4 linked regions of the Homo sapiens genome follow. The protein of the gene in region 2 interacts with the protein of the main gene of each other region in a pairwise test. Each region holds a gene or a part of one and is shown on either strand. Other genes may lie near its edges.

Region 1 (4,744 bases), on a different chromosome or scaffold from region 2:
TGCAGGAGGGGAGACCCACCTTGAAGTGGGGGATCAGTAGAGGCTTGCACTGCCTTTGGGGCTGGAGGGAGACGTGGGTCCACCAGGCTTCTGGAAAAGTCCTCAATGCAATAAAAACAATTTCTTTCTTGCATCTCAGTGTGTTTACTTTATTTTATTGAGCCAGAGTCTCACTCTGTCACCAAGGCTGGAATGCAGTGGCGTGATCTCAGCTCACTGCAGCCTCTGCCTCCTAGGTTCAAGCAATTCTCCTGCCTCAGCCTCCAGAGTAGCTGGGATTATAGGTGTGTGCCACCACACCCAGCTAATTGTTTGCATTTTTTGTAGAGATGGGGGTCTCACTATGTGACTCAGGCTGGTCTCAAACTCCTGGGCTCAAGCAGTCAGGCCACCTTGGCCTCCCAAAGTGCTGGACTTAACGGGCGTGAGCCACTGTGCCCAGTGAGTGTTTAAATTCCCTATTTGTGGCAGGTCCTCGCCCCCCTGGGTCAGGAGTTCGTGGTCCCCTCCTCCCTGGACCAGCTGCTTGGGCTCCGTTGCAATCCCTGCCCCTCAAGCCTGGGGGCCGAGGAACAAGGGCTCACCTCTCCCCCCACCCCGCCTCTGGAGGGATCAGGCCAGTTTTCTGATGATGAAGCCAATAAGGCAGCTGGCATTTTCTGAGCACTCAGTTTGTAGTTATACACTTATGCACATGCTTTTTGTTGTTGTTTAACATTTACCCCCAGGCTATGAGTCCCCACCTGTGCTTTGGGCGCGATTTTGCGATGGCGCCCGGGCAGGCGCGCACAGCCCGCAGTGGGGGCGACCCCACAGACGAGCGCAGGAGCAGCCGGGTTCCACTCTCCCCAGCTGTGACCTTAGGCAGTCCCTCCACTTCCGACGCCTCGGTGTCCTCGCCCGCAAAATGAGCAGGGTGGGCCGCCCAGATCCCCGGGAAGGCAGCTGCCTTCCCCGCAACTCCGGAGGGGACACCTTGGAAGCGCCACGCCTGCCTCCCCGCACTCCGCCCGCCGCCGCTCTCCAAGGTGCTGAAGTCGTGCCCGGCGCCTCTCCCTCCGCTGCTCCAGCGCGGGCATCTGGCGGGGGTGTGGAGCCCACACCTCACTCACCCATCCCAGGCTGGCCCAGCCCCTCCTTCTGGGGAGTCGAGGAGCCCCAGACTCCGCCTCCACACCAAAACAAGGTTCTGTCAAAATACTTTATTTCGGATCAGGCAGTCTTAGAAAAGGGGGGTGATTGTGGGCCGTGGCTGCTCCAAAGACCAGGGCGCACCCGGGGCTCCGGGGCCAGGCTCCCTGCAGTCTCGGCGGCTTCCTCCTCCCAGTGTGCGAGGGAGGCCGGGAGGGGTCCCTGGGCGGGGAGTTGCTGCGCATCTGTTGTGTGTGTGCGTCTGTCTGTCTGTTCAGGTCTGTTTCAGACTACGTCTGCCTGTCTGTCCAGGTCTGTTTTAGGCTGTGTCTGCCTGTCTCTCTGTCTGGGTCTCTTTCAGGCTGCGTCGGTCTGTCTGTCTGGGTCTGTTTCAGGCTGTGTCTGTCTGTCTGTCTGGGTCTGTTTCAGGCTGTGTCTGTCTGTCTGTCCGGGTCTGTTTCAGGCTGTGTCTGGGTCTGTTTCAGGCTGTGTCTGTCTGTTTGTCTGGGTCTGTTTCAATCTGTGTCTGTCTGTCTAGGTCTGTTTCAGGCTGTGTCTGTCTGTCTGTCCGGGTCTGTTTCAGGCTGTGTCTGTCTGTCTGTCCGGGTCTGTTTCAGGCTGTGTCTGTCTGTCTGTCCGGGTCTGTTTCAGGCTGTGTCTGTCTGTCTGTCTGGGTCTGTTTCAGGCTGTTTCTGTCTGTCTGTCCGGATCTGTTTCAGGCTGTGTCTGGGTCTGTTTCAGGCTGTCTGTCTGTCTGTCTGGGTCTGTTTCAGGCTGTGTCTGTCTGTCTGTTTGTCTGGGTCTGTTTCAGGCTGTGTCTGTCTGTCCGGGTCTGTTTCAGGCTGTGTCTGTCTGTCCAGGTCTGTTTCAGGCTGTATGTGTGTCTGCTCTTTGCTTCTGCTCCTGGCTCTGTGTGTATTTCCCGGGTCCTGTGGCCCTCTTTGCCTTGTGTCTGAGTGTCGGTTCCTGCGTGGGCCTCAGTCAGGCCCTGGGTGTGTGGCTATGAGCTGTGCCTCCCCCATTCTGGCATCTCTGCTGGGGTCTTGGCCTCACGTCCCATCCCCAGGTGGGTAGCTGCCCAGTGCAGCATCCCCAAGGCACCCCTGGGCAGAGGGGCCTGGGAGCATAGTCCTGGCGGGGCTCACAGCTCGTCTCCCGCCGCCTCCAGCCCTGCACGTCCTGAGCCAGTGCTCGGCCCAGGCGCCACCCAGTCCAGCAGGGCGACCTGGCCCAGCCCCTCTGTTGCATTCCTCAGGACCAGGGTGGCGTTGTCCAGCTCCTCCGTCGAATTGGTCAGGTTCGCGGTGTCCTGGAAGCCCCAGTCTGCCCCGGGGCTTCCTGGAGACTCTTCTCGGGTTGTGTCAGCCTCGGGTCGGGGTCCTGGGGCCTCGGAGCCTGGCACAGCATCAGCAGCCACGCGGGAGGCAGCATCGTTGTGCAAAGTTCTGGAGAACACTGATTGGGGAAGGGGGGCATCACAGGGGACAAGGTGGAGGTGGGGTCCTATGCTCCCTTCCCTGGCCCCCAGCCTCAGGGAACAAGGGCACAGGGGTCTTCTCCCCCTCCCCCAGAGGCCCAGGACGGGGACTTGGGGAGACCAGACAAGGGTTTCAAAGGTGGGGATCCCCTACCTCGTACAGGCGCAAAGTCCCCAGGGCTCTCGGTTTTGTTGGGGCCAAAAGGGCTGATGGAGGGGAGGATGATGAGGGCAAAGGACAGCAACAGGACCTGGTGGAGACAGCGGCAGAGTCACCCCCTCCCTCCCCTCCCCTGCAAGCATCTCCATCCCACAGGCAGGGAAACTGAGGCCCCAAAGACCAGACTGGATCATACTTGAGCTGGGGCACAAGGAGAGCTTGGACTCATTGTCACCTCCCTATGGGCCCCTCTACAGAAGCCTAGGTCCCCGGCTTGCCTGGGGGCACCAGGACTCACTGCGACACAGGTGCCTGTCTGGGCTGACTTGCTGGTGGACTGCACCACAATGGCCTGGAGTTTCTTCAGTTGCTCCAAGAGGGACCTTAGAGAGACAGGCAGGCCTCCGCTGAGCCCTAAAGGGCCTCGGTTCTGCTTCTCGTCCATTTCCGGGGTCCCCCAGCCCCGCTAAAGTCCAAATTCCATCCATTCTTCAAGGGCCTCTGGCTCTTTATTATTTATTTTATTTATTTATTTATTTGTTTATTTATTTATTTATTTATTTTGAGACAGAGTCTTGCTCCATCGCCCAGGCTGGAGTGAGTGGTGGGATGGCAGCTCACTGCAAGCTCCGCCTCCCAGGTTCACACCATTCTCCTGCCTCAGCCTCCCGAGTAGCTGGGACTACAGGCGCCCACCACCACACCCAGCTAATTTTTTTTGTATTTTTAGTAGAGACGGGGTTTCACCGTGTTAGCCAGGATGGTCTTGATCTCCCGACCTTGTGATCCGCCCACCTCAGCCTCCCAAAGTGCTGGGATTACAGGCGTGAGCCACCACACCAGGCCTTATTTATTTATTTTTGAGACAGAGCCTTGCTCTGTCACCCAGGCTGGAGTGCAGTGGTGCGATCTCGGCTCACGGCAACCTCCGCCTCCCGAGTTCAAGCAATTCTCCTGCCTCAGCCTCTCGAGTAGCTGGGACTGCAGGTGCCCGCCACCACGCCTGGCTAATTTTTTTGTATTTTTAGTAGAGACGGGGTTTCACCATGTTGGCCAGGCTGGTTTTGAACTCCTGACCTCAGGTGATCCACCCGCCTCGGCCTCCCAAAGTGCTGAGATTACAGGCGTGAGCCACTGCACGCGGCCCATAGGTAAAACTCTTATTCCCTATGTCATTCTGCCATCACATGGGCTCTCTGCTCTTCCTGCAAAGGGACTCTGGGGCTGCTTCCCCTGTCCTCTGCCCCAGCTGGACCCAGACTCACAGGTTTTGCTTCTCGAGATGCAAGACTTTCCTCTGTAACTCCTGATTCTGAGCAGTGCAAGCTGACATCCTGAAAGGAGGAAGACGCATCGACATTCAGCATATGCCAGTCACCAGCTGGCCCCACTGACATCTCCCCCAGAGGCCTCACGTTACAAGCCAAGAGAACCCAAGGCCAGAGAGGGGAAGTCATTCATCCAAGGTTACTCGGCAGGTCAGACAGGGCTGGGATTTGAACCCACATCTGCCTGGTTCCTAGGTCCCATTTCTGCATTAATATGGAGGGGGCTTCATTCAAAGCTGAGCCCCCTGGATGGGTGTGGTGGTTCACACCTGTAATCCCAGCACTTTGGGAGGCCGTGGTGGGCGGATCACCTGAGGTCAGGAGTTCAAGACCAGCCTGGCCAACATGGTGAAACCCTGCCTGTACTAAAAATGCAAAATTAGCCAGGTGTGGTGGTGGGCGCCTATAATTCCAGCTACTTGGGAACTTGGGAGGCTAAGGCAGGAGAATCGATTGAACCCGGGAAGTGGAGGTTGCAGTGAGTCAAGATCGCACCATTGCACTCCAGCCTGGGCAACAAGAATGAAACTCTGTGTCAAAAAAAAAAAAAAAAAAAAAAAAGCTGAGCCTCCTAGATTCAGGCAGTGATGTTTCCAGAAGATGAAATATCAGGACAACCAGGCATCCTGGGAGACTCAAGTTTCTTTT
Region 2 (8,820 bases):
CACATGGAATGTGGTCTATTTCATTAAAAAAAGGAAACAAAAAGCAGACATCTGCAAATGTATGTACCAATTAACAGCAACAGGGATAAAACGGAATTGAAATAAAGGGTGATTTCCGGCCGGGTGTGGTGGCTCACACCTGTAATCCCAGCACTTTGGGAGGCCAAGGCGGGCAACCTGAGGTCAGGAGTTCGAGACCAGCCTGGGCAAGATGGCAAAACCCCATCTCTACTAAAAACAGAAAAATTAGGCTGGGTGCAGTGGCTCATGTCTGTAATTCCAGCACTTTGGGAGGCCGAGGCAGATGGATCACCTGAGGTCAGGAGTTCAAGACCAGCCTGGGCAAGATGGCGAAACCCCATCTCTACTAAAAATAGAAAAATTAGGCTGGGTGTGGTGGCTCATGTCTATAATCCCAGCACTTTGGGAGGCCAAGGCAGGTGGATCACCTGAGGTCAGGAGTTTGAGACCAGCCTGGCCAGCGTGGTGAAACCCCGTCTCTACTAAAAAAATACAAAAAATGGCTGGGTATGGTGGCTCACGCCTGTAATCCCAGAACTTTGGGAGGCCAAGGTGGGCGGATCACCTGAGGTCAGGAGTTCGAGATCAGCCTAGCCAACATGGTGAAACCCCGTCTCTACCAAAAATACAAAAATTAGCCAGGCATGGTGCTGCGCACCTGTAATCCCAGATACCCTGGAGGTTGCAGTGAGCCGAGATCATGCCACTGCACTCCAGCCTGGGTGACAGAGCGAGATTCCATCTCAAAACAACAACAACAAACCCAAAAAATTAGCTGGGTGTGGTGGTGGGCGCCTGTAATCCAAGCTACTCAGGAGGCTGAGGCAGGAGAATCGCTTGAACCCGGGAGGTGGAGGTTGTTGTAGTGAGCAGAGATCGCGCCATTGCACTCCAGCCTGGGCAACGAGTGAAACTCCATCTCAAAAAAAAAAAAAAAAAAAAAGACAAAAAAAAAAGAAATAAAGGGTGATTTTTTTTCTTCTTCTTCTTTTTCTTTTTTTGAGACAGAGTTTTGCTATCACCCAGGCTGGAGTGCAGTGGTGCGATCTCCACTTACTGCAACCTCCGCCTCCGGGGTTCAAGCAATTCTCCTACCTCAGCCTCCCGAGCTAGGACTACAGGCATGCGCCACCACAACCAGGTAATTTTTGTATTTTTAGTAAAGACGGGGTTTTGCCATGTTGGCCAGGCTGGTCTCGAACTCCTGACCTCAGGTGATCTGCCTGTCTTGGCCTCCCAAAGTGCTGGGATTACAGGCGTGAGTCACTGTGCCTGGCCAATTTTTTTTCTTTTTTAGACATGTTTGTATGGCTTTTTTTTTTTTTTTTTTTTTTTTTTTTTGAGACAGAGTTTCCCTCTTGTTGCCCAGGCTGGAGTGTAATGGTGTGATCTCGGCTCACTGCAACCTCCGCCTCCTGGGTTCAAGCAATTCTCCTGCCTCAGTCTCCCAAGTAGCTGGGATTACAGGCAGGTGCCACCATGCCCAGCTAATTTTGTATTTTTAGTAGAGATGGGGTTTCACCATGTTGGTCAGGCTGGTCTCGAACTCCTGACCTCGGGTGATCTGCCCATGTTGGCCTCCCAAAGTGCTGGGATTACAGGCATGAGCCAATGCACCTGGCTGAAACCACTTTTCATAAAACAAAACAAGAGCCCTGCATCTATGTATACATCTCCATAGCTATGTGTACACAGACACGCACACATGTACAGAAGTGGTTGAGGACACAGACCATACTGGTAACATGGAGCTATCTCAGAAAGGATGTGGGGGCGAGTGGGTTGTGGGGGAAGAGGGACTTCCATCTTTTTGTATTAAGCCCTTTATTAATGTTTAAATTGTTAACAACTAGCACACTACCGAATTTTTAAAAGTATTAAAAAAAAAACAACAACAACCTGGCTGGGTGTGGTGGCTCACGCCTGTAATGCCAGCACTTTGGGAGGCCGAGGAAGGAGGATCACCTAAGGTCAGGAGTTCGAGACCGGCCTGGCCAACATGGTGAAACCTCGTCTCTACTAAAAATACAAAAATTAGCTGGGTGTGGTGGCAGGCATCTGTAGTCCTAGCTACTCGGGAGGCTGAGGCACGAGAATGGTGTGAACCCAGGAGGCGGAGCTTGCAGTGAGCTGAGATCGTGCCACTGCACTCCAGGCTGGGCGACACAGCGAGACTCCGGCTCAAAAAAAAAAAAACAAAACAAAAACCCATGATTTCTAAGTACACAAGCCTCTGACTCCTATCTGTTTTAAGGCCCCCACAAAGCCACATTCCAATCCAGCACCTCCCTGAGAGGATCAAGGGCTGGGTCCTGCTTTACCTGGCTGGTTTGACCTCTTCCATCTCAGAGAGTTTGGCTTGAATGAGGCACAGCCCTGAAAGAGAAGAAGTGGCCCTGAGCATTTGTGAGGGGAGAGGGCTCCCTCCCTCCTAGCCACCTCCTTTCCCAAGAAGCAGTGCTGGATGGAGAAAGGCCCATGTTTACTCTTCTAGAAATTCCATCTCTGCCCCCACACCACATCCTGCTGGGGTCATCTGGCATCTGCTCTCCCATGACAGGCTGGCATCTGACAAGACCCCTTGGGCAGCATGCTAGACTCAGCTAAAGGGACAGCACTCAATGGTGACTCAGTGGTGGCCCAACCCCAGGGGTCTTCCTAGTACACTTCCCAGCAGATCTGGCTCCCCTGCTCCAAGCAAAGCAGCTGGGGCTTTCAGGGTGGCTTCCTGGATAGAGACAAGCTGGAAAAGGGTGGAACTCATGGCTGGGCAGACAGGACAGTTCTCCAGGGATCTGGCGGTAGATCTGTGTCTGGAACCCAGGTTCCCTGATGTCTGTGTCAGGGTGCCACCCCAGACCCCACTGCCCTCTGGGCTGTAATGGGCTGAACCAGCCAGATAGATCCCTCATAGTCAAGGAGCAGCAGACACCTGAATGAATGGTTAAAAGAATAGACTCTGGACCCAGACAGCGTGGGATGGAAAAGGTTACTAGTTGAGTTTGTTAAGCTCTAGGCAAGTCTGTGACCCTTTCTGAGCCCCACGTGCCATCAGTAAACTGGAGATCACAACTATACCTTCTTTCCAGGAGATAATGCTTGGATAGGGGCTAGTACAGAGGCGAGACAGGTGATCAATTAGTGCTGGTGGTTACTCTCTCCTGCATGTTTTGAGCAAGTAGGGAGCTGAGGCTAGGCAGGCCCTGGGAGTCTGTGCTGTGGGGCTGTGAGATGGGGCGCCAGGGGTCCGCACCTGGGAAGACGAAGATGAAGCAGGCGGCCAGGCCTCCAATGACTGAGATCACCTTGCCGATGTCAGGGATGAAGAGCGCCAGCAGCAGGGTGAGCAGGAACCAGACCAGCGTCTGCAGCACTCGCCGCCGCCGCTCCCGCCCCACGTCCTCCTCCACTGGCACCCCCTGGTAGCGCAGCCACAGGCCTTCCACCACCGCCCTGCCCACATGGAGAAGGGCTTAGAGGTGCCCCTGCTGCTAGCAGCTCCCCACCTCTAGCTCACAGGAGCCAGACCCCTAACTGGGTAGACTGCGGGGAAAGCCCCATTCCTGACCCTCAGTTTCCTCTTCTGTAAAATGGGCCACCAGCACTCTGTTTACCACAGGGACTAGAGACGGTGAATGTCGAGAGCTTAGCACTTTGCTTTACATCACATGGAAACTGATATTGTTTTTTCCTTAAAAGGAACTGTCTGGGGCATCCAAAGGGGAGGGTGTCCATGTGAAAGCTCAGGAAAGGATCTGGATAGAGATTCTTTTGTTTTTTGTTTTTTTGAGACAGGGTCTGGCTCTCTCACCCAGGCTGGAGTGCAGTGGTGCAATCTTGGCTCACTGCAGCCTTGAACTCCTGGGCTCCAGCCATCCTTCTGCCTCAGCCTCCCAAGTGGCTGAGTAGCTGGGACCACAGGTGCATCCCACCACACCTGGCTATTTATTTTATTTTGTGTAGAGATGGGGTCTCACTAGGTTGCCCAGGTGGTCTTGAACTCCCAGGCTCAAGCGATCCTTCTGCCTCAGCCTCCCAAAGTGCTGGGTTTAGAGACGTGAGCCACCGTGCCATGCCATGGATAGAGATTCTTACAGGACTCACGGAATGTTCTGGTGACCCCAGGACAAAGGGCGCTTCTGACACCTGGCCTGGGATATGTAGGGACCCATCCTAGGCACCGACTCTTTTCTACAGGCTTCAGTTTCTCCTTCTACAGGATGGGGTCCACACAAGGCCAAAGGACCATGTTGGAAGCGCTCACAGGGGCTAGGAGGGGCCCTGGGGAGTGGAAGGGGGCTCACCGCCCACAGAAGTGCAGGATAGGGTAGGAGGTGAGCACGCTCAGGATGATGAAGGCTCGGGCAACGGCCACGGCCATGTCCTCCGAGGGATAGGACAGGAGCACGTCAGGATCCACAGCAGCTCCAAAGGTCAGGAAGCCACAGATGCCTGTGGGCAGGGACAACTGGGTCAGGGCAACCCTGGGAGGGTAGTGGGGTGGACTGTCCACTCCTCCTAGGAGCAACATCAGCCTGGAGGCTGCAGCAGCAGCTCTGGACACTTAGACGGAGGCTCAGAGTGGGAGATGGGGCTCCGATCAGATGCCTCCCTCCCTGACTTCTCAGATCCCCCATCGCTGGAAGCCCTCCAGCCCCCAGCTTTCTGAGCCTGAACTTGCCCAGCACATTCCCACCTCAGTGCCTTGGCACTGACTGTTCTGTCTGGCAGACCTTCAGATGCCATCTCCTTATCATTTGGGTCTCAGTTTAGATGTCCTTCCTCAGAGAATGCTTCCTGCCAGTCCATCTACAATGACCCCCACCCCAGGCACTCTCTCACATCACGCTGTCTTATTTTTCTTTTCTTTTTTGAGACAGAGTCTTGCCCTGTTACCCAGACTAGAGCGCAGTAGTGTGATCATGGCTCACTGCAGCCTTGACCTCCTCGGCTCAAGCGATTCTCCCACCTGAGCCTCCCAGGTAGCTAGGACTACAGGCAGATGCCACCACACCCAGCTAATTTTCTTGTAGAGATGGGGTCTTGCTACGTTTCCCAGTCTGGTCTTGAACTCCTGGGCTCAAGTAATCCTCCTACCTCACCCTCCCAGAGTGTGAGCCACTACACCCAGCCTTCTTCTTTTTTATTTTTTTGAGATGGAGTTTCACTCTTGTTGCCCAGGCTGGCACGCGGTGGCACGATCTCGGCTCAGTGCAGCCTCCACTTCCCAGGTTCAAGTGATTCTCCTGCCTCAGCCTCCTGAGTAGCTGGGATTACACCATGCCCGGCTAATTTTTTTTTTTTTTTTTTTTTTTTTTTTTGAGATGGAGTCGCGCTCTGTCATGCCCAGGCTGGAGTACAATGGCATGATCTTGGTCTCCTGGGTTCTCATGCCTCAGCCTCCTAAGCAGCTGGGATTACAGTCACCTGCCGCCACACCTGGCTAATTTTTTTTTTTTTTTGAGATGGAGTTTTGCTCTTTCACCCAGGCTGGAATGCAGTGGTGCGATTTCAGCTTACTGCCACCTCTGCCTTCTGGTTTTAAGTGATTCTCCTGCCACAGACTCCCGAGTAGCTGGGATTACAGGCGCCCGCCACCAAGCCTGACTAATTTTTGTATTTTTAGTAGAAATGAGGTTTCACTATGTTGGCCAGGCTGGTCTCGAACTCCTGACCTCGTCATCCGCCTGCCTCGGGAAGTGCTGGGATTACAGGCGTGAGCCACCACGCCCAGCCCTAATTTTTTTATTTTTAGTAAGATGGGGTTTCGCCATGTTGGTTGGGCTGGTCTCGAACTCCTGACCTCATGTGATCTGCCTGCCTGGGCCTCCCAAAGTGCTGGGATCACAGGCGTGAGCCCCAGTGCCTGGCCGTTTTTTTTTTTTTTTTTAAAGACAGGATCTTGCTCTGTCACTCAGGCTGGAGTGAAGTGGTACAATCATAGTTCCACTGTAGTCTTGAATTCTTAGACTCAAGTTCCTCCTGACTTGGCCTCCCAAGTCACTGGGACTACAGGCACATGCCACCATGCCTGGCTAATTTTTTTTTTTTGAAGACAGAGTCTCACTTTCTCCCCCAGGCTGGAGTGCAGCGGCGCGATCTTGGCTCACTGCAACCTCGGCCTCCCAGGTTCAAGTGATTCTCATGCCTTAGCCTCCCGAGTAGCTGGGATTACAGGCACCACCACCACGCCCGGCTAATTTTTGTAATTTTGATAGAGACAGGGTTTTGCCATGTTGGCCAGGCTGGTCTCGAACTCCTGGCCTCAAGTGATTCACCCACCTTGGCCTCTCAAAGTCCTGGGATTACAGGCGTGAGCCACCATGCCTGGCGGACGCCCAGCTAATTCTTTAATTTTTGTAGAGATGAGTCTCACTATGTTGCCGAGGCTGGTCTTGAACTCCTGGCCTCAAGCGGTTCTCCCATCTCAGCTTTTCAAAGTGTTGGGATTACAGGCATGATCCACTGGGCCTGTCCCCTAACACTCATTTCTCTCTTTTTTAGAGACAGGGTCTCACTCTGTTGCCCAGTTTGGAGTGTAATGGCATGATCATGGGTCTCTACAGCCTTGATCTCATAGGCTCAAGCGATCCTCCCACCTCAGCCTCCCAAGTAGCTGGGTCCACAGGTGCATGTTACCATAACCTGGCTAATTTTTAAATTTTTTGTAGAGATGGAGTTTCACCATGTTGCCCAGCCTGTCTTGAACTCCTGGGCTCCAGAGAACCTCCCACCTTGGCCTCCCATAGCTGAGATTATAGGTGTGAGCCACTGTGACTGGCCTCATCGCTTTCTAATTTTTTTTTAACTGTACTATCACACTGGTCTTTAAGTAAACAATAATACAAATAAAAATAATAACAATAATAATAGTAATTAATTTTTACAGGCTTATTTTCTGTCTCCCCAGCCAGGACATGAGCCCCAGGAGAATAGGGATTTGGCTGTTTGCCTCTCTTGTTCCTGGCTGTGTATTCAGAGGCTAGAACAGTATTGGCCCAGGCAGCTCCTACGGTCTATCCGTGGAAAGAACTCAGGGGATCCTTCTTCCAGGGTCTCCTAGACTTGCTCCCTCACCCCAACCACTCTCCACACGGCAGCCAGAGCCACCTTTCCCCGAACCACCCCCCTGCTTAAAACACTTCCTCGATGACTCCCAGCAGCCCTCGAGGCCCAACAGGATCTGGCTGCCAGTGCCTGTCTGGCCTCACTGCCTTCACCTGCCCCCATCACACACCACTCCAGCCACATAGACTTTCTTCCTGGCCCTGCCTCAGTGATTTGGTGTTTTGTGGTTCCTCTGCCTGGAACCCTTCTTCCCCAGCTCCTCCTCTTCTGGCTCTTTCTCATCATTTGGGCCTTCTCTGAGAAGAACCTTCTGTGAACCACTCCCAAAGCCACCCATCCAGTCCCATTCATACCTTCCCCATTTTAGGCTGGGTTGGTGGCTCATGCCTGTAACCCCAGCACTTTGGGAGGCCGAGGCAGGAGAATTGCTTGAGCCCAGGAATTCAAGACCAGGCTAGGCAACATAGTGAGACCTTGTCTCTGCTAGAAAAAAAAAAAAAAAAAAATTAGCTGGGCACAATGGCACATGGCTGTAGTCCCAGCTACTCTGGAGGCTGAGGCAGGAGGATCACTCGACCTCAGCAGGTTGAGGTTGCAGTGAGCTATCATCATGCCACTGCACTCCAGCCTGGGCGACAGTTTCTGAGACCCTTTCTCAAAACAAAATAAAATAGAATAAAACAAAACACACCTTCCCTATTTCACTGTCATCAGGATGCTTGCCACCATCTGGAATTCCTTACTGATTCCCCAGTTACTCCTGCATGACTGTCTCTCCAACAAGAATGTCAACTCCATGAGGGCAAGACCAGTTCTGTCTCTCTCCATGGCATCCCCCATGCTGAGAACCGTTCCTGGCACTTCCTAGGCACCAAGTTAGAACTGGTGAATGAATGGATGAATACACCACTCTCATCTTGGCAGGAGGAGGCTCCAGGCAGGCCAAGTTCAAGCCAATGCCTATACAAGTCATGCTGGGAATGCAGGGCTGTCCCCAGGAAAGCTAGGCCCCAGGACCTAGGGACTCCTGTGGAAGTGAGAGCACTCTAGTCCCAGGTCTTGGGGGGGGGGAGCACTCACCTGTCCCCATGTAGACAGCGAGGGCTATGACCATGGCAGCTGTCACCACTCCACCCCAGGTCTTCACTTCAGGCTGCTGCATGCTGTTGAAGACGGGCACACTGCTGACGTGGCACTGTCCAGGTGAAGGGCACCGTCATGGTGGGGAAATGACCTCAACCCCAGTTTCCAGAGGAAGGTACCTTGGGAACAAAGACCCCAGGAACAAGGGGCAAGTCCTGAGGCCCCTGTTCCATCCTTCCCCCCAGGATTTCCTCCATTCTGCCTGGGTTCCTCCTCCTTGCTGGGTTCCATCCCAGGGTGGGGTGATCTAAGGGGACAGCAGGGACCTTGCAACTGGCACTGGCACCTGAAATCCGAAGCAGATGGTGGGCATGGCATTGAACACAGCCATCCAGGAAGCCGGCCTGTGAACAAACACACATGGTGCTGCCACCTGGGAACCCCTCAGAGCCACAACCCACCCCACGCCCTCACTCTTCGGTCAGCCCACCATGGTCTCCAGCAACTGGGATTCCATAGCTTCAACCCACAGAAGTCTGGGAACAGGGAGAAGAGGCATCCTTATGTCCCAGGGCCCTCTGGGATGGGGCCTGGAGGTTCAGAAAAGCCCCCCTGGGGCCAAAATCCAGAATTCCTGGCTCCTGGACT
Region 3 (8,641 bases), on a different chromosome or scaffold from region 2:
GGCAGTAAACTTTGAATGGCAGAAAAACTAAATGAAGAAAGCAGAATTTTAGAGTCAGACTTGGGCTTAGATCTAGCATATGTCATTTGCTAGCTCTGTGACCTTAGCCTAGATACTTCATCTCTTTAATCTTCAGCTCTTTGAGCCTCCTTGTTTATAAATTCAAGGGAGTAACAGTGTCTACTGAATAGGGTAGTGAAAGTTAAGTGAGTAAATTCTAATACAAATGTTTAGCATAGTGCCTGCCACATGGTAGGTGCTTAATAAATCCACATAACATTATCATTATCGTTAAAGCATTTTGGTTTTGGTCTGCTAATGATTGATTACCCCACAGAAGCTGAGGCTGTTGAATAGGTAAGATATGAATAATATTTCTACTCAAAATCTAATGGATTTGGGAATTCTTTTGAACCCTTTTCTCTGGGTTCTGGGATGTACAGACCTGTATAAAATTGCCAAGTTGTATTGTATTCAAATACATTATTCCTACTGGGCTTCATCCACAAACATCCATAAAAGGGCATTTAAATCTCTCAAGTAATTGCTTGTACGCAGCTCTGTGTATTGGATGCTCAGTCAAATGCTTTGACCACTTCCTAGGTTGATATCTAATGGAAGTTTCTTTTTGAAAACATGGAAGGAGCATTTCTAAGTCCTCCATATGAACCTTGCTGTGGTGGCAGATTAGGAGCACACACTCAATTATGCCTGATTCTAAAACCCCAGTTCCTCTTTTTTCCTTCTTCTTTCCCAAGAGATGGATCTTGCTATGTTGCCCAGGCTGGTCGTAAATTCCTGGGCTCAAGCAATCCTCCCACCTCAGCCTCCCTGAGTAGCTGGAACTACAGGTGTGCACCAGTATGGCCAAGCAAGAACCCCAGTTCTTTTTTTTTTTTTGAGACGGAGTTTCACTCTTGTTGCCCAGGCTGGAGTGCAATAGCGTGATCTCGGCTCACTGTAACCTCCACCTCCTGGGTTCAAGCGATTCTCCTGCCTCATTCTCCCAAGTAGCTGGGATTACAGGCATGTGCCACCAAACCTGGCTAATTTTGTACTTTTAGTAGAGACAGGGTTTCTCCATGTTGGTCAGGTTGGTCTTGAACTGCCGACCTCAGGTGATCCACCCACCTTGGCTTCCCAAAGTGCTGGGATTACAGGCGTGAGCCACTGTGCCTGGCCCTTTTTTTTTTCTTTTTTGAGACAGAGTCTCGTTCTGTCACCCAGGCTGCAGTGCAGTGGCGTGATCCATGCTCACTGCAACCTCTGCCTCCCGGGTCCAAGCAACTCTTGTGCTTCAGCCTCCTGACTAGCTGGGACTACAGACGCGAGACACCATGCCCAGCTAATTTTTGTATTTTTTGTAGAGATGGGGTTTCACCATGTTGGCCAGGCTGGTCTCAAACTCCTGACCTCAGGTGATCCACCCACCTCGGCCTCCTAAAGTGCTGAGATTACAGTCATGAACCACCGTGCCCAACCCGGCCCCCAGTTCTTAACAATGACACTGTTTTACCTTTCACAGTGCTATAAGGAAATGAACACACACAGACACACACACACCCCTAGGCTGAACTCCCTGAACACACCGTTTGCTCTGAAATTTGGCTCTTTTAGCTCATGAGCTTGCTATTGCTCAGGTCTCTTATAGCTACTTCTTTGGGAATGGATTGCAGAGGTTTATTTGTCACATTATCAATTGGTCTTACTACCCTCTCATCATATGTCATTTGTACTCTAAATACTATTATTTAGAGGAGTGATAGACTTATTCTAGGTGGATAGACTTAGCTTTGAATATTTTTTCTATTGTTAACTGGCTGTTGCGACATCAGGCAAGTCAGCATTCTCATCTGAAAATGGGGATGGATATATCTTCTTCACATGATTTTTATCAGAATTAAATTAGATAACTTGTACCTAGCAGAGGCGGGGCCCAGTAGGAAGTCAACAACATTAGTCATTTTATGCTTTCCTATTTCATTTAGGGATCAAAAGAGGGAGCTGGAATTTAAGGGAGTACTCCAGTAACTCCTTCCTTAAGATTTCTCAGGAAACAGCAAACATAGTAGAAATAGTGTATGCTTAGGAGTTAGATATAAGGATGTGGAATCAGATAATAGCATATGCTTAGGAATCAGATAGGGCTGAATTCAAACCCAATATTTATTATGTACTGCCTGCATGACATTGGGCAAGTCACTTCACCTATAAACTGTCTTTTTGAGAGGATTAAATGAAATTGTATATACACACCTAGCTCTGGATCACTATATACTTGGCCCTCAAATATAGTTCCCACCCCTATTCACTTACCTTCATCAACTACTTTATTCTGCAGTCATGGTTATGCTGACTTTTGGTTGTTTCCAAAAATGTAATTTCCCTAGAAAATCTTTTTCCCTTGCTGAGGATAGTCCAGAGTGTGATGGAGTCATTTTCAAAAAACAGTGTCCAATAGTTTGAATAATGGCAGCATTGTGGGGAAAAATAGTCTCCCCAGAGGATTTCAAAGAGGACCAAACTTATTTGAAAGTAACAGTATTTTAAAAAACTAATCATATAACTCTGACCTTTCTTATAAAATGTAATGCAACAACATATAAATCAACTCTGAATGTCTGTTTCTAGCATATTTTATATCTCAGGTCATCTTCCAGCATAGGAACACACATTTTCCTATTAAAGTGCTCAGATTTTCATTTGCCCAGAGCTGCAATGAGTGATTTGTGGTTACAATTTTTTTGCCTACAGTGCAAAATGAGGTTTCCATTTAGGCATCTCAAAAGCCCAGCGATCACTTTAAGTCATTCCTTTAGTAGACAGCCGATGGCTTAATTTTCAAACTTATATTTTTACAGATTTTTTTCAGCTAATTTGCTATTTACTGAATATTTTTTTAAAACATTGCACCTCATTCATGGTATGATAAAATCAAAATTAAAATAATTATGCTAACACTCCCAAAAAACATAAAAACAGGCCAATTTTAGTGAAAGTTACCCATTATTCCCAAGCTTAGTGATTGCTTTAAATTTTTTACAATCATGGTTTGCGTCTTCAATGAAATACTTAAAAAAAAATTATTACTTCTGGATGCAGTGGCTCATGCCTGCAATCCCAGTACTTTGGTAGGCTGAGGCAGGACGATCACTTGAAGCCAGGAGTTCAAGACCAGGCTGGGCAACAAAGCGAGATCCCATTGCTACAAAAAATTTAAATACCACCCATACAAAAAAGAGTAAAAATCAAATGGTTTCTCTTCAGTGTTTTATTTCAAAATGTCCTCATTAAAAATATTCCATAACCAAAAGTAAAAGTCCAGATGATACAAACGTAAATGTCAATCATTTTGGTGAAGTTGACAATATGGTGGTACATTTTTGGCAGAGCAGTACCACCAATTAGACCTGCTGTTGACACTGAGGGTCACCCTCATTCCCAGAAATCCATAGTCAACAGCTTAGGAGGCTTAGGACTGAAGCCTTGCTTCAGTTTGGAAATCTGGTGAGAAACCTACCTTCTGCACGCAAAGAGCCTTGGACCAGGAGCCTCGTGGTCCAGATGGAAGTGAGAAGCAACACCAGGCTGAAGCACCTGGCCATCGTGCCTACCCCTTCAGAGCCAGGGAAACACCTCAGATGGCCACTGGTGATATGAGAGGCAGATGCTCAATAACTAGTCCGGATGGAGAGTTCTGGAACTATGTTGAGGCTCACACTCACTGCTCCACTTCATAACCGAGACATCCGGATTTCCCTGCTTTCAAGCTTCTGACTTGTCAAGGTCACTGGGGGAAATGAATGACGTCCCTTGAACGCCCAGGCTGTACTTTGTGGATGGCCTTCTGGAAAATTTAGCTAATGCTGACTCAGAAAACACACAAATGAGGAAGGCAGATAGCACAGTGTGAACTGCTAAAGGTTCTCCCAATTCCCATATTCCCTGCTGTTCCTCCTCCCCCAGCAGCTCAGTTCTCACACCATTCACTGTTACTGCCTGTGGAGTCCATCGTTTATGTACTCCTAGAAACATCTCTGTCCCTAAAGGAGACTGAGCATAGGTTGTGCCTCTTTTCCTCCCGCAATCAGTGATTTTTCCACCCAGCTGTTCGGCCTTGTGATCTGCAGGGTATGATGCTGAAGCTCATGAAAGTAAATGTCCACTTAAATACTGAGTCTAGAACCTTCTGCCTTCCTTTGAGTCTCCTTTTACACATTTGAAATCTCTACACCACTACAGGTGATTCCTTTTTCAAAGAAACCAGGCACATATAAACATTCACATTTACATAACACAAGTAGGAGGGCAATTTACAAAATTAAACATTTTACACTTTCCCCAAGGATTTTTAACTTTACAATAGTAATCACCACAGGGGTCTTTTATGAAATAACTTTCTCTTAATAACTCCTTTCATATTCTGGTAGGCCAGAATTCAAGTCAGACTCCACCTTTGTTGTTCGATGAACATGAGGTTTATCTGTGCTGTGTACCAGCAGAGTGTATTCTATGTTTTTCCAGCCGGATTTTCAGTGGTTTTTGCTTCATGGTAATTATGGAGTTCTGGCTTGTAAGCAATGTCTTGGGCAAAGGTTTATGAGATTTTTCCAAAATGAATGTCTTTTATAGGAAAAGTATATGGATAACGAATTCTTTTTTATATAAGTGGTACTGGTCATAAAGTTAGATATTTGTGTGAAAAATATCAATAACAAAAAGAGAATCTGCTCTAAACAAATGCAGGGAACTTCTAAAAGACCAGGGTAACAGCCCTTACACATCTCCAATACCGACCTCATGATCTGGGTGAGCACAAGCCCCAGTTTCTCAGAAACATGCATGACTCTATCATCACAGCACCAGGGAGGCAGACAGGCAGAGTCCTGGCCTCTTCATGATTATTCTTAAAGCCTAACACCATGCCCGAAAGAGAGCTAGCTTTCTAGCATTTGTTCACTTATTGCAAAAAGAACGAAGGAAGACAGGAAGGGGAAGAATGAATCAGGGAAGGCAAGGCTTTGTGTCAAGGAGGAGAATGAGAGTCACAGTGATCACCAGCCATAGAATTTCTGGAATACCAATGAAGAGGCCTTAGAAAGGTCGCTGTGCCAGCTTTCTATTGCTGTCCAACAAATTACCATAGACTTAGCGGCTTAAACAGTACTCATTTATCATTTAACAGCTTCTATATGTCAGAGGTCTGAGTGGGCTCAGTTGGGTCCTCTGCCCTGGGTCTCACGAAACTGACATTAAGGTGCTGGCTGGGCTGGGCTCTTACCCAGAGGCTCTGGGGAAGAATCCACTTCGAAGCACATTTGGGTTGTTGGCAGAATTCATTTCTTTGAGGTTGTGGGAATGAGGTCCCTGTTTCCTTGCAGGGTGTCAGCCAGGGACCATTCTCTTCTCCTAGAGCCCTTCCATTTTCAAAGCAGCAATGACACACTGAGTCCTTCTCATACTTCTAGTCTCTCTTTCACTTCTACAGTTAGCCAGAGAAAGTTCTCTGCTCTTTTAAGAGACACGGTCTTGCTCTGTTGGCTGGAGCGCAGTGGCGCCATCGTGACTCACTGCAGCATCTACCTCCTGGGCTCAAGCAGAGCTCTCTACTTTTTTTTTTTTTTTTTTTTTTTTTGAGACAGAGTCTCACTCTGTTGCCCAGGCTGGAGTGCAGTGGCGTGATCTCAGCTCACTGCAAGCTCTGCCTCCTGGGTTCATGCCATTCCTTGCCTCAGCCTCCCGAGTATCTGGGACTACAGGCGCCCGCCACCACACCCAGCTAATTTTTTGTATTTTTGGTAGAGGCAGGGTTTCACTGTGTTAGCCAGGATGGTCTCGATCTCCTGACCTCATGATCCGCCCGCCTCAGCCTCCCAAATGCTGGGATTACAGGCGTGAGCCACCGCGCCCGGCGAGCTGTCTGCTTTTAAGGGCTCATGGGCCCACCTGGATAACCTCCCTATCTTAAGGTCAACTGTACCATCTAATGTAACACAACAAAGCTCCATACCCCTGGAGCTCCTATTCAAAGGCTCCAGGGATTAGGGTGGGACATCTTTGGAGGGCTATTCTAGAAATTCTGCCTTCCACAGTCACTTAACCTTGATTTGATTCTGATCTGCTTTCTGAGAGAAACTTCCACATCCACTGTTTTCTGCGGCCCTTTGCATCCCTCTGGGAGATTCATTTGCATATAATCTTGCTTGTCCACATTTGAAGTGGATATTAGGGAGTATGCCTTCCTTGGGAATAGCACAGCTTTTGCAGTCTGCTTCCTGCCGGCATAAGCTAAGATCCCAAAAGTTTTCTTAATTTTAAAAAAATTTTATTTTTAATCAATACATAATTATACACATGTACATTTTGATGTTTCCATACAAACAAGATGTAGTGATCAGATCAGGCTAATTAGCATATCCATCATCTGAAACATTTATCCTTTGTGTTGGGGGTGTTCAATATCTTCTCTTCCAGCTATTTGAAAATATGTTATTGTTATCTATAGTCATCCTATAGTGCCATAAAACACTATAACTTGTTCCTCCTAATTTTATGTCCTTTAACAAATCTGTCTTTTCCTCCTCTCTTCCCTTTCCAGCCACTAGTATCCTCTATTCTGTTTTTTACTTCCATGAGATCTTTTGTTAGCTTCCATGAATTAGAACATGTGGTGTTAACTTTCTGTTCATGGCTTATTTTACTTCACATAATGACCTCCATTTCCATCTATGTTGCTGTGAATGCCAGGATTTCATTTTTTACGGCTGAATACTATTCCGTTGTGTATGTACACCATGTTTTCTTTATCCACTCATCTGTTGCTGGACACATTTTAATACCATATCTTGGCGATTGTGAATACTGCTGCAATAAACATGAGGGTGCAGGTATCTCTCTGATATATTTTCTTTCCTCCTCAAAGCTGTTTCCTCACCTGAACAATGAAAGGGGTTTTTAGTCCTGGCTTGTGTTTCTTTGTAAATTCCCTCACAAAGTTAGATTTCTGCTTCCATGTGCCAATAATCATACCCCAAATCCTTTCCCAGTCATAATTCTCAAGAAGTATTTCCTGTTTCTCAGCACCATACCCCTCAAATTTAGTGGTGAATACACTAAGTTCATTTGAACTCACAAAGGGCCACATCCTTAATCTAGCCTTTGCCATAAGGCTGAGTCGATCTGTTCAACTGAGAAATTTTATTGGCTCCCACTCAAAGCTCTTTTTAGTCTGTCTGGGATTTAGAAGTGGTCAGGTTTTCTCACCCTTCAATCTTTCACATTTCTGAATACTCTATATTCTTTTTCATTTTTGCTCCCACATAGCCAATTATTTCTCCTGCCATACCTTGCCAAAGGCAGCCAAGAGAAGTTTCCATACCCCAACGCTGATTCTTTCCACCACTTATAAATAGGCTAACCATGAGATGCTTTCCAAGTTATCACAGGTAAGACTTTACTATCTTACCATCTTTCTAGCAGTTTTGTTTCTTGCCATGTAACTGGTAAGCTAGAACCTCATATTTTGGAATTTTGCTATTAAAGTACACAATTTCTGGTTCAAATGTATGCATTAGGGTAGGCTAACTGCTATAAACATCCTGGAATCTCTGTGGCTTAATATACTAAAATCTTATTTCTTATTCATGTCACAGTTCAATACTGGGAGTGCTCATTCAAAGACCCAGCTTCCGTCTAGTGGTTCTGCCATTTTCTCGGGTCTCAGTGTTCTCATCTGAATCCTCTGGCTTTGGTAGGCAGAGAAGGGAGTAAAAAAAGGTGTGAAGTATTGGGCAGGAGAGTTTATTTTTAGGGAACTAGATTTGGAAAGTCCACATTCCCCTGCAGCTAGCTGTAAGAAAGACAAAAATAGTTCAGCTGTGGAAATCAGGTTGGTTAAAAACTCAGCAGACTCAATCACAGCAAACTGTGTTAATTAAAAAAATCATAGACCAGGAAGATACAGGAAACCAGGATCAGGAATGGGGAAGGGAAGAGGAGGAACTGATCCAGCCCCTGTGAGGTAGCCCATAGTATAACGACCAAGGGTTGGGGACCTCTGACTTGGTTCTGGAATGCACTAATATATCCAAAGGCATCTAATTCTGGGTTGGGGTAAGACTGTAATTCAACTCCATAAAATGAGGAGGCATTTGGCTGCTGCCAGAGGTTTGGAAATGTGCTTTTATTTTCAAACTCAGGTATGTGACACTCTACAGTTCAATGCTAGCACACCTGTGTGAGGCTTAACAACATGAGGAACTGATAGCCAGTGATACACAAATCCAGCACTTCCTCTCCATTTACTCTGTCAGGCTGTATATGGGGAGCAACACATATGGCTTTGTGGCAGCCAGAAAGTGAAGGTCTTTTTAGGAGGTGACATCAACAATGACACAAACACATCACTCTGCAACTGAAGGCAGGGAACCAGACTCCTAGGGCTAAGCAGAGATGTCAGACTTCAGAGGCATTTGGGGGACTCTTCAGATCCACATCCTCACTGAAAATCCAGGGCCTGTTTCTCTCCAGTTCACTACCGCTTGGGCAGCAGCTCCCACTGCTTCAGGCTGGTCTTTGCTTTCCAGAAAAGATGGACTCATGAGCACTTTTTCAGCCCCTGTATATATGGCTATTCTTATGC
Region 4 (8,820 bases), on a different chromosome or scaffold from region 2:
CGTTTCACAGGGAAACTGCTGTCATCTCTGCAGTACAATATAGATCAACAATGGCCCTAACTTCCCTAAGACAGCTCTCATGTCTGCTTGCAGAGAACAGATGGAAAAAGTCACCAGGGAGGGTAGATTGCCATATACAAGTACTTCAGGGAGGCTACCTGGAAACTAATAGAAAACCAGTTTATGGATGATTGCAGAGCCTGGGGAGAGAAATCAATCTTGGACAGTTTTATGGATGGCAGCCAACAGCCTACCATGCTCAGCCCATCGCACCTGTCACCTGGGGACAAGCAGGGTCTATCTGGAACGGACTCTGGCCAGGATTCAGTTTCTCTTTCCTCGAAATGGGGATAATCACCCTCTTGACTATTGCTGTTATGGGAAAGGCCAAATTAGGGGAAAAAAATTCTGTCCAATAAGGGATGAACCACAAAGCTCAGGCCAGTAATGGCCTCTATTGGTGGTTTGGGAGGTATGCTTGTATGGGCATTAAGGGAGAAAGAGAAGGTCTGCACTCTAATCAAGTCTAGGCAATGTGGGAGTTGGAAAGAGACACATGGGAACACAGACCCAGTCACCTGAAGGCAAGAGCCTTTCTTTTTCCTCCTCTTGGCAGGCAGCGTGGGCTCCCGGGCCCCAAGCAGGATCCCTTAGGGCTGATCTCTTACCACACACTGGTCTGACTTGGTGACCTGGAAGAGGACAGTCAGAGCCAACAGGATGAGGGGACCAGCTTGGAGAGCATCTATTGTATGCCACCCTTGAGTGGCTGGAAATGTCTTCTGCCACTTTGCAAGGGGCTGGGGGCTGGGGAGTGGGAGTGGCAAGGGAACACGGGGTGGTAGATTGTTCCCAGGGCTGCTGGTTTTGGAGCAGTCTGACTACCCTCTCTTCTTAGTGGGAAAGAAAGGAGGAAGAAGGGGGAAGGGATGCTTTTGGAGGGGAGCTCTAAGGGTGGGAGAAAAGAAAGCCTGAAAGAACATCACTAAAGGGTCTGAAGTTAAAGACTCCAATGAACAAGAAGCCCCTAATTCAAACAGTGCCACTAACACCAAAACCTGTAAAGTGGTCCAGAGAGACCCTGGTCATGTCTGTAACTTTCCTTTTTAAAGCTCTCGTGAAGTTAATGAATGAAAAAATTGCTAATGCAAAGATGGAAATTAATAAAAACAAAAGCGTGCTTCATATTGCAGGGTGACCACCTCTAATCCTACCAGTGATCCTGTGGCTGTCCCTGTAACTTCCTTTGGCAACACCATGCTTTGAGAAGCTGTGGGGAAGGCTGGCCAGGGAGAGAGCCTCACCCCCCAATTCTGCCAGCTGATCCCCCAGAGGGCTGCAAGGCTCCTGATTTACCCAGACCTCTGGAGTGGCTGAGGCTGGGCTCTGGGGTTGGATGGTTCTCACCAAGAGGCCTGGGACATCTGCTCTGTGCTAAGCTCCGAGGCAGACCACAGAGGAGATAATGACTAATCGGACCTTCACATACATTGTACATGCCTTTTCTGAACTGAAAAAGAGAAGAACAAACAAGATAAAAATATTGAAAAAAAAGAAGAATCAAATGTGTAGAAAATGCAAGGTCATTAGAACTGCCCAGGGCTTCATTCAGGCAAAGATCTTGAGGGTCTGGCCAGGGACCTGCTGAGTAAATCTAGCTCTGGTTCCCCTCCCACAGATTCCCTGCGCCTCCTCCAACTGCATAACCAAATCTCCCCACCTCCCAACTTTCCTTGAGCTATTCTGCTGTTTTCTTCACTTTAGTTTTCTCACTGTAACCCACACATGGTATAAGGTTGAACGAAGACATTTATTTGTAAAATCAATTCTCAATGGAGGAGAGATTGTATCCATAGAAAGTAAACCAGTGATCGTTCAGAGGGCCACATGCACGCATTAGTGAAACCAAGGGAAAAACCAAAAAAACAGCACTGCTGCGGACGACCCGCGTGGCTACTAATCCTGCCAACAGAAAAGCAAAATGTCCTTTCCGCTTGAGAACGCGGATGCACCAAGATGTCCTGTGAGAAGGCAATTTGGTCTGACATCCACGATGAAGTGATCAGGGAACAAGTGGGGGAGCGTTTTTTTCTATTCCGTGTGGCCTGCTTGTTTCCCGCAGAAACTGGCTGACCGCTTCCGTTGTCCTCCCGCCTCCAGTGGGAGGGAGGTGGTGTCAAATCCCTGGCTTTCTCACATGCCCATCCTTATGCTCTGAATGATCTGAAAGATAGCTGAAAAGAGGAAAACACCACAGCTCAGACACCAGACTGCACACAGCTGGAAACCCAGCCCACAGTGAGCCCGGCTTCTGCAGACCCCTGGGCCCTGACGTGTTAGCTCACAGCTGATTAGATATTTCCTAACAAGGAGTTAAGTTAACAAGAGGTCAGTGAACTTCTTTAAAAAGGCAGCCTCGCTCAGTCGGCTGATGGATGCCTCAGGGATTTATAGATAACTCCTGCTAATTCCACCAGCAGTTAAGGCCAGAAATCCCTCAGGCACTGAGAAGAGATTTGGCCCCCTTCCCCAGCAAAGTTCTGGGGCTGCCTGGGAGAGGGATATGGGCTTTCGTGCAGAAACTGCACTCATTAAACAGGTCAGTGAGTCTGCCTTTTCAAAATGGCTGTGACCTGTAAAACAATGAGCCCTGTGCTGGGAAGGCCGACCAGGTGCTCGGAGCAGCCCACGGGGCCCGGCCTCTGTCTGCCTAGAACCCTCCATGCGTGAGTATCTTCCAGCTGCTTGGAACTCTCTGAAAGGCGGCTGTCTCTTATGGAGAGCGGCACTTATTTATTCAGGGCTCAACCTTTAATAACTGGAGTTGTCAAGGGGGTGGGTAGCTTGTAAGCCCACAGAGAACTCCTGGGACCCTTGCCCATGTGGATGAGAGCTGGTTACATAGCTTCAGCCTGCTTCCAGCTATTGGGTTTCAAATGTGTCCCAGGAGCGGAAGATCCCAACTTCTTTTTCACATCTTCCCCAGTGAGCAACCGTGGTCAGTGTTGACAAAGATGATGGTAATGATAAGAGTAACTACCATGTATTGAATGGCTTTTTTTTTTTTTTTTTGAAGGAGGGTGGGTATCATCTCATCTAACCATGTGTAAAAACAGAATAAACACTGAGCTCTCAGGGGTCTTACCCCTTCTCGCCTTCTTAAAGTCATCCTGGAATACATCCAGGATCCACGGTAAAACAGAGTTATCCAGAACCCTAGGAAACCAGCCATTCAAGTTTCATCATCTGGCATCAATGAGCACATCCTATGTGTCAGACACTGCGCTTCAAGGATAGAAAGAGAAATGATGGACAGGGCCTTGGGGAATCGTTCTTGGACAGCTGGGTTTTAAGAGTAGACAAACATGAATGCATTTTTTGGCTTTTTTTCCCCGTAAAAACACTGTACCCATCATCACTACCTTTCTAAATTGGAGATACCAACATATTTCAATGCTAACTTTTCATGAGTGTTCAGTGTCACCATAATGAAAACCAGTAACTGATGAGACGTGCTGTGATCTCATTACAGAGGAGGCTGCGTGTGATCTGACACTGAAATGCTTCTGGTCAGCTGCACTTCTGGGCTCCCATTTCTGCTTCTGATCATTTTTTGGGTCTCTTTCTTCTCATCTCTGGTCACATCTCTTGTATTACTACACCAATCTGCAGTGGGTCCTGTACTATTATTTTGTTGCCGTAGACTAAGCTGAAAACAGAAACTGTTAGAATTACGAGTCAAATCAGAGTCAATCAGCTCCATGTGAGTGTCAGGGACTCATCTGTAGATATGGTGAAGGTGTTGGTCCAACAACTTGTGATATTTAATTCTGGATGTGCTCAGATATTTTCTTAGCTAAGTTTGGGTTCTTGGGTGGGTCTTTTTTTTTTTTTTTTTTTTTGAGACGGAGTCTTCCTCTGTCGCCCAGGTTGGAGTGCAGTGGTGCGATCTCGGCTCACTGCAAGCTCCGCCTCCCCGGTTCACGCCATTCTCCTGCCTCAGGCTCCCGAGTAGCTGGGACTACAGGTGCCCGCTACCATGCCCGGCTAATTTTTTGTATTTTTAGTAGAGACGGGATTTCACCGTGTTAGCCAGAATGGTCTCGATCTCCTGACCTCGTGATCCACCCACCTCAGCCTCCCAAAGTCCTGGGATTATAGGCGTGAGCCACCGTGCCCGGCCTTGGGTGGGTCTTAACAGGAGCAGTTGGAAGAGAAAGTACCCTACAACAATTTATAAGCTTGCAGAAATATCTGATGTTTCTTTCCTCCCCACCAAGGCTCACAAGGAGTAAAAATTAAATAAACATTCTGTATTCTGGCTCAATAGGAATGTCAGGAGGCAGCTGTATATTCAACATTAGGAAAAAAAAGATTACTTCTACCATGCCTCAGACTTTGTTCTTGTGATCAGGGAACTATCGCTAATCCTGACGAACAAGTTGACTTTAGAGCAGAAAGTTAGGATCAGATGGAATTGGGTTGAATATCAGCTCTTTGCTGAAAAGCTGTGTGACTGGACAAATAATTAATCTCTTAGAGGCTGCTTCCTGTTCTGTAAAATGAGGATCATGGCCTTTGCAGGGCTGTCACAGGGATTAAACCATATGACATATAGGAAGGGTCCTCACACATGGAGGACTCACTGCCTGGTAGCTACTGCTATCATCACTGTTACTATGACTACAACAACTGCTGCTTCTCCCTGTCCCAGCATGCAGACCAGTGCTTAGCACTATCTGCCAGCCTACAAAGCTGTGAACTTTGGGAAATTACTACACAGTTCTGAGCCCTGCTTTCTCTACCTATAAAACTGTGGATAATAGGTACCTCAAAGGATGGCAAGGAATAAATACGATGACATAAGTAGATGCTCAAAAATATTACTTCTCGCTTACTCTTGCCCTTAGACAAAAACTTATCAGCAGGATGTAAGTCAACAAATAGGAAACCATCTGTGTCTTAGTCCATGTAGCCCCCATATTAAGTTAATTCATAACTTCAAAAGTTCGAGGTAATAATAAGAAACCATGCAATTCTTTTTGAAGGAACTGTTACAAATCTCTTTAAAGAATCTAAGACAGTCCAGGTGCGGTGGCTCATGCCTGTAATCTCAGCACTTTGGGAGGCCAAGGTGGGCAGATCATGAGGTCAAGAGATTGAGACCATCCTGGCCAACATGGTGAAATCCCGTCTCCACTAAAAATACAAAAATTAGCTGGGTGTGGTAGTGCCAGCTACTTGGGAGGCTGAGGCAGGAGAATCGCTTGAACCTGGGAGGTGGAGGTTGCAGTGAGCCGAGATTGCGCCACTGCACTCCAGCCTGGGTGACAGAGCAAGACTCCGTCTCAAAAAAAATAAATAAATAAAAATAATAGAAAGAATCTAAGATAAAGTTTGCACGTCTCAGAACAGCGACACTGATATTAAAACAACTTACCTAGTTCTTTGAGTTTGCTTTAAAAACTGAGGATCATTCCTGATCATAATTGAATCCATGAATTAACATATAAGAGTCCAGCGATCCTTAACATGTTCACAGATGAACCTTCTTGGAGACACTACTTTGAATAAAGTCTATTTTTTTAAGTTCACCATTTACCTCCACAAGATAACAGAGAGATGACTGTGTTTATTATTTCTTTTTCAGTTGTATCATTGTCTTTAAGAAAACTTACACATTCTAATTATATTAACTGTAATTCTGTGTACCTGCCAATACTGACCTGCAGAGTAACCTCAGCCTTCCAAATGCTGACTTTCTGAGGCGGCAAATGGGAAGGGAGCCAGCAGTGAGTTCAAAAGAGGGAAAGGAAGCGGGGAGTCTAGACCCTGACAAGTTAATAACTTAACAGTGGGTGAACAAAGCTGAGAAAACAGCAGAACAGGCTGCAGGAGAGGAACTGTGGGCAGGCGAGACAGCGGGGAGGAGAGATGCCAAGAAAGGGAGGGACAGCAGGCGTTCCAGGGCAGGCGATCAGGGCGTGGGCAGGTCCCAGAGGTTCAGAAAAGTCCAGGGGAGAGCAGGAGCTACCAGACCCACGAAGCCTCTGCATCCTCCTACCTGTGTCAAGGATCCTGGCCCTTGGTAACCTTAGATGATACCATTTCTCTTTTTTCAGCACCCCTTTCAACAAAGTCTTTAGGCTTTAACATGCTAGGAGCACTCCCACTGAAAAATCAAATACACCAGAGCTATCTGCCTGACTCCACATCTCCATCCACAGGGCCCTCTCTTCCTCTTCACAACCATTTCTAAAGAGCTGTCTATGCTCACTTTCTGCACTCTCTTACCTGCTATTCTCATGTCAGTCCACCTCATTTTATCTTCTGCTCTCTTCCCTCCATTGAATATCTTTTGCTAAAGTCACAAATGACTTTTGAGTCGCTTAGTGTAACAGGCATTCTTCCACCTTCTTTTGCCTTACCCCCTGCTCACCCCCGCTGGGCACTTCCTGCTTGAAACTCTCTTCCCTTGGCCTCTGTGAAACCATGGTCTTCTAGGTTCTAATTTTCCTCCTTCTCTTGGATCTTTCCTCTAAACTTGTTTTAGAGGAAACAATCCACTTGACCATTAAACATAAGCGCTGACATTCTGCAATGAACGTCACTGGCTTTCTTCTCCTTACGTTCTTTCTTCTTAGGCAATGCCTCCCAGCCCACAGTTTGAATTGCCACCTAGCTGTTGATGATGCACAAATGTGTATCTCCAGCCCTGACTTCTCTGAGCTCCAGCACACCTTCCACTATCTAGTTGATATCTACAGCTGGGTGGCTCAGAGGTACCTCGGACTCAACAGGACCTTCTCATGATCTCGTCCCACTGCTAAAACTGGCATCATTATCTTCCATCTTGGATGTAGACTCAAAACACCACAGTCCTTCCTGACACCTCCAATTGATAACCAAGACCTGTGGATTTTACCTGGGAATCTTGTGATTATGCACCCTTCTTTCCATTCCTCAGAAGCCACCCTAGTCCAAGTTACCATCATCCTCCCCAAGACCCCAGTGAGGCCCTCCCAGTGCTCGACTCTTGCTCTTCTTCCATCCTTTCTCCATACTGTAGCTAGAATTATCCTTTCAATAAAAGCAAATAATATATTGTCACTCCCGTGTTTACTGCACATCAAAAGCTTCCCGTTGCCCAATCCCTGATGAGGCCTTCATGACCTGCACATCATGGTCCCTGTCCAGACCTGTCAGACTCACCTTGTATCACTCTTCTCCTTGCTTGGGGTACTCCCTCATGTTTTCAAAAGCTCCCTGCTCTCCTGCTCTCACCACAGGGCTTTTTTTTTTTTTTTTTGAGACAGAGTCTCACTCTGTCACCAGCCTAGAGAGCAGTGGCACGATCTCGGCTTACTGCAACCTCTGTCTTCCGGGTTCAAGCGATTCTCCAGCCTTAGCCTCCTGAGTAGCTGGGACTACAGGAGCGCACCACCATGCCCAGCTAATTTTTTTTGTATTTTTAATAGAGACGGGGTTTCACTATGTTGGCCAGGATGGTGTCAATCTCTTGATCTCACGATCCACCCGCCTCGGCCTCCCAAAGTGCTGGGATTTACAGGAGTGAGACCACAGGGCTTTTACACATGCCATTCTTTCTGTCTGAAATACTTCTACCCCACCCTATTCCCTAGTTTCCTTCATCAACCAAAATTTAATGTCTTCAGAGAAGCCTTCTTTGATCACCTGGAGCAGAGGTTCTCAGACTTGAGCATGCATCACAGTCTCTTGGGGACAGGTTAAAACACAAATGCTGGACACCTTCCCCCCAAACCCTGGAGTTAAGGGATGGAGAATCTGTGTTTCTAACAAGTTCACAGGAGATGTTGAGATGCCGGTCCAGGGACCACACTTTGAGAACCACTTACCTGAGAGTACACCAGTCCTTTGCATTGTATGATTTCATAGCCCCATGTGCCTCTCCTTTACATTGTTTCATGGCTGAAATTGTACAGTTTCATGGCTGAATTGAAAGTGTTTTGGTGTGATTACTTGATTAACTCATCTTTCTTTGCCATTAGACTATAAGCTCCAGGATAACAGCGACCAGGTATGGCACAAAGTAGGTCCTCTGTAAATATTATTGAATTACTGAAAAGTGAACGATTGCAAAGAGCACAGAGGAAATTACATTTTAAAAACCTCAAATGACTACTTTGCAAACCCAAAGAGTCAGCATCAAATGGCTGCCTTTAGATCCAAATGTCTCTAAAGCTCAGTCTTCGAAGGGGAAGTACAAGACTATAAACTCCTAAAGGCCTGATAATGGGCCATCCCAACCGACTCTCACCCTGGGGACTGACCCTCCCCAGCTAAGAGGGAGTGCCAGAAGGACACAGGGATGACATAACAAGTGGGTCCCATAGGAAAGTGTCAGAAAGCTGGAACCCTGCCAGGTAACAGGAGGCTTCCTAAAGCCACTTTTATTGACAATAAATTGATGATAAAAGAGATCAAGGGAGTTGCTGAGAAGAGAGATTAAGAGAGGCCGGAAGAAGAATATCCTTTAGGAGAAGAAGACAACCTAGAAATCATACAGTTTTGCTTATTTTTCATTAAAGAAAATGAAAATGATGAAAGAGCTGGTAGAAAGCAAAGTACAGGCCCTCTGAGAAACAAGCTGAAATGTTAGGAGACGAGACATTGCAAAGTGGATCACTAAGTTCTCTAAAAGAATCAGCACAAAGAAAGTCAAAAGCAAGATGCCATTTTCTGGTGGCTTCTCTAGAGATGGAGAAGAGGGAAAAAAGAGAGATGCCGGAGACAGGCAGGGCAAGGAGGCGCTATTAAAACCCAGATGTTATTAGCAAA

What was found.
Region 1: the proteins of SLC38A7 (region 2) and CREB3L3 interact in binary tests that used the Homo sapiens proteins (3 or more experiments, as listed by UniProt).
Region 3: the proteins of SLC38A7 (region 2) and LYVE1 interact in binary tests that used the Homo sapiens proteins (3 or more experiments, as listed by UniProt).
Region 4: the proteins of SLC38A7 (region 2) and SERP2 interact in binary tests that used the Homo sapiens proteins (3 or more experiments, as listed by UniProt).

The regions. Positions count from the first base shown.
Region 1 is NC_000019.10:4,169,498-4,174,241, reverse strand, and holds the end of CREB3L3 (cyclic AMP-responsive element-binding protein 3-like protein 3), read right to left. Parts: intron 4,103-4,744; coding exon 4,034-4,102; intron 3,152-4,033; coding exon 3,067-3,151; intron 2,860-3,066; coding exon 2,763-2,859; intron 2,587-2,762; coding exon 2,273-2,586; 3' UTR 1,188-2,272; downstream 1-1,187. UniProt on the Homo sapiens protein: Transcription factor that may act during endoplasmic reticulum stress by activating unfolded protein response target genes. Activated in response to cAMP stimulation. In vitro, binds to the cAMP response element (CRE) and box-B element.
Region 2 is NC_000016.10:58,667,771-58,676,590, forward strand, and holds part of SLC38A7 (sodium-coupled neutral amino acid transporter 7), read right to left. Parts: intron 8,577-8,820; coding exon 8,519-8,576; intron 8,352-8,518; coding exon of another isoform or gene 8,306-8,351; exon of another isoform or gene 8,285-8,305; coding exon 8,170-8,284; intron 7,954-8,169; coding exon of another isoform or gene 7,844-7,953; exon of another isoform or gene 7,764-7,843; intron 7,573-7,763; coding exon of another isoform or gene 7,544-7,572; exon of another isoform or gene 7,480-7,543; intron 4,474-7,479; coding exon 4,326-4,473; intron 3,475-4,325; coding exon 3,275-3,474; exon of another isoform or gene 3,100-3,274; intron 2,398-3,099; coding exon 2,343-2,397; intron 1-2,342. UniProt on the Homo sapiens protein: Symporter that selectively cotransports sodium ions and amino acids, such as L-glutamine and L-asparagine from the lysosome into the cytoplasm and may participates in mTORC1 activation. The transport activity requires an acidic lysosomal lumen.
Region 3 is NC_000011.10:10,564,928-10,573,568, forward strand, and holds the start of LYVE1 (lymphatic vessel endothelial hyaluronic acid receptor 1 precursor), read right to left. Parts: upstream 3,739-8,641; 5' UTR 3,606-3,738; coding exon 3,521-3,605; intron 1-3,520. UniProt on the Homo sapiens protein: Ligand-specific transporter trafficking between intracellular organelles (TGN) and the plasma membrane. Plays a role in autocrine regulation of cell growth mediated by growth regulators containing cell surface retention sequence binding (CRS).
Region 4 is NC_000013.11:44,390,686-44,399,505, reverse strand, and holds the end of SERP2 (stress-associated endoplasmic reticulum protein 2), read right to left. Parts: intron 8,081-8,820; exon of another isoform or gene 5,319-8,080; intron 2,235-5,318; coding exon 2,194-2,234; 3' UTR 1,792-2,193; downstream 1-1,791. UniProt on the Homo sapiens protein: Interacts with target proteins during their translocation into the lumen of the endoplasmic reticulum. Protects unfolded target proteins against degradation during ER stress. May facilitate glycosylation of target proteins after termination of ER stress.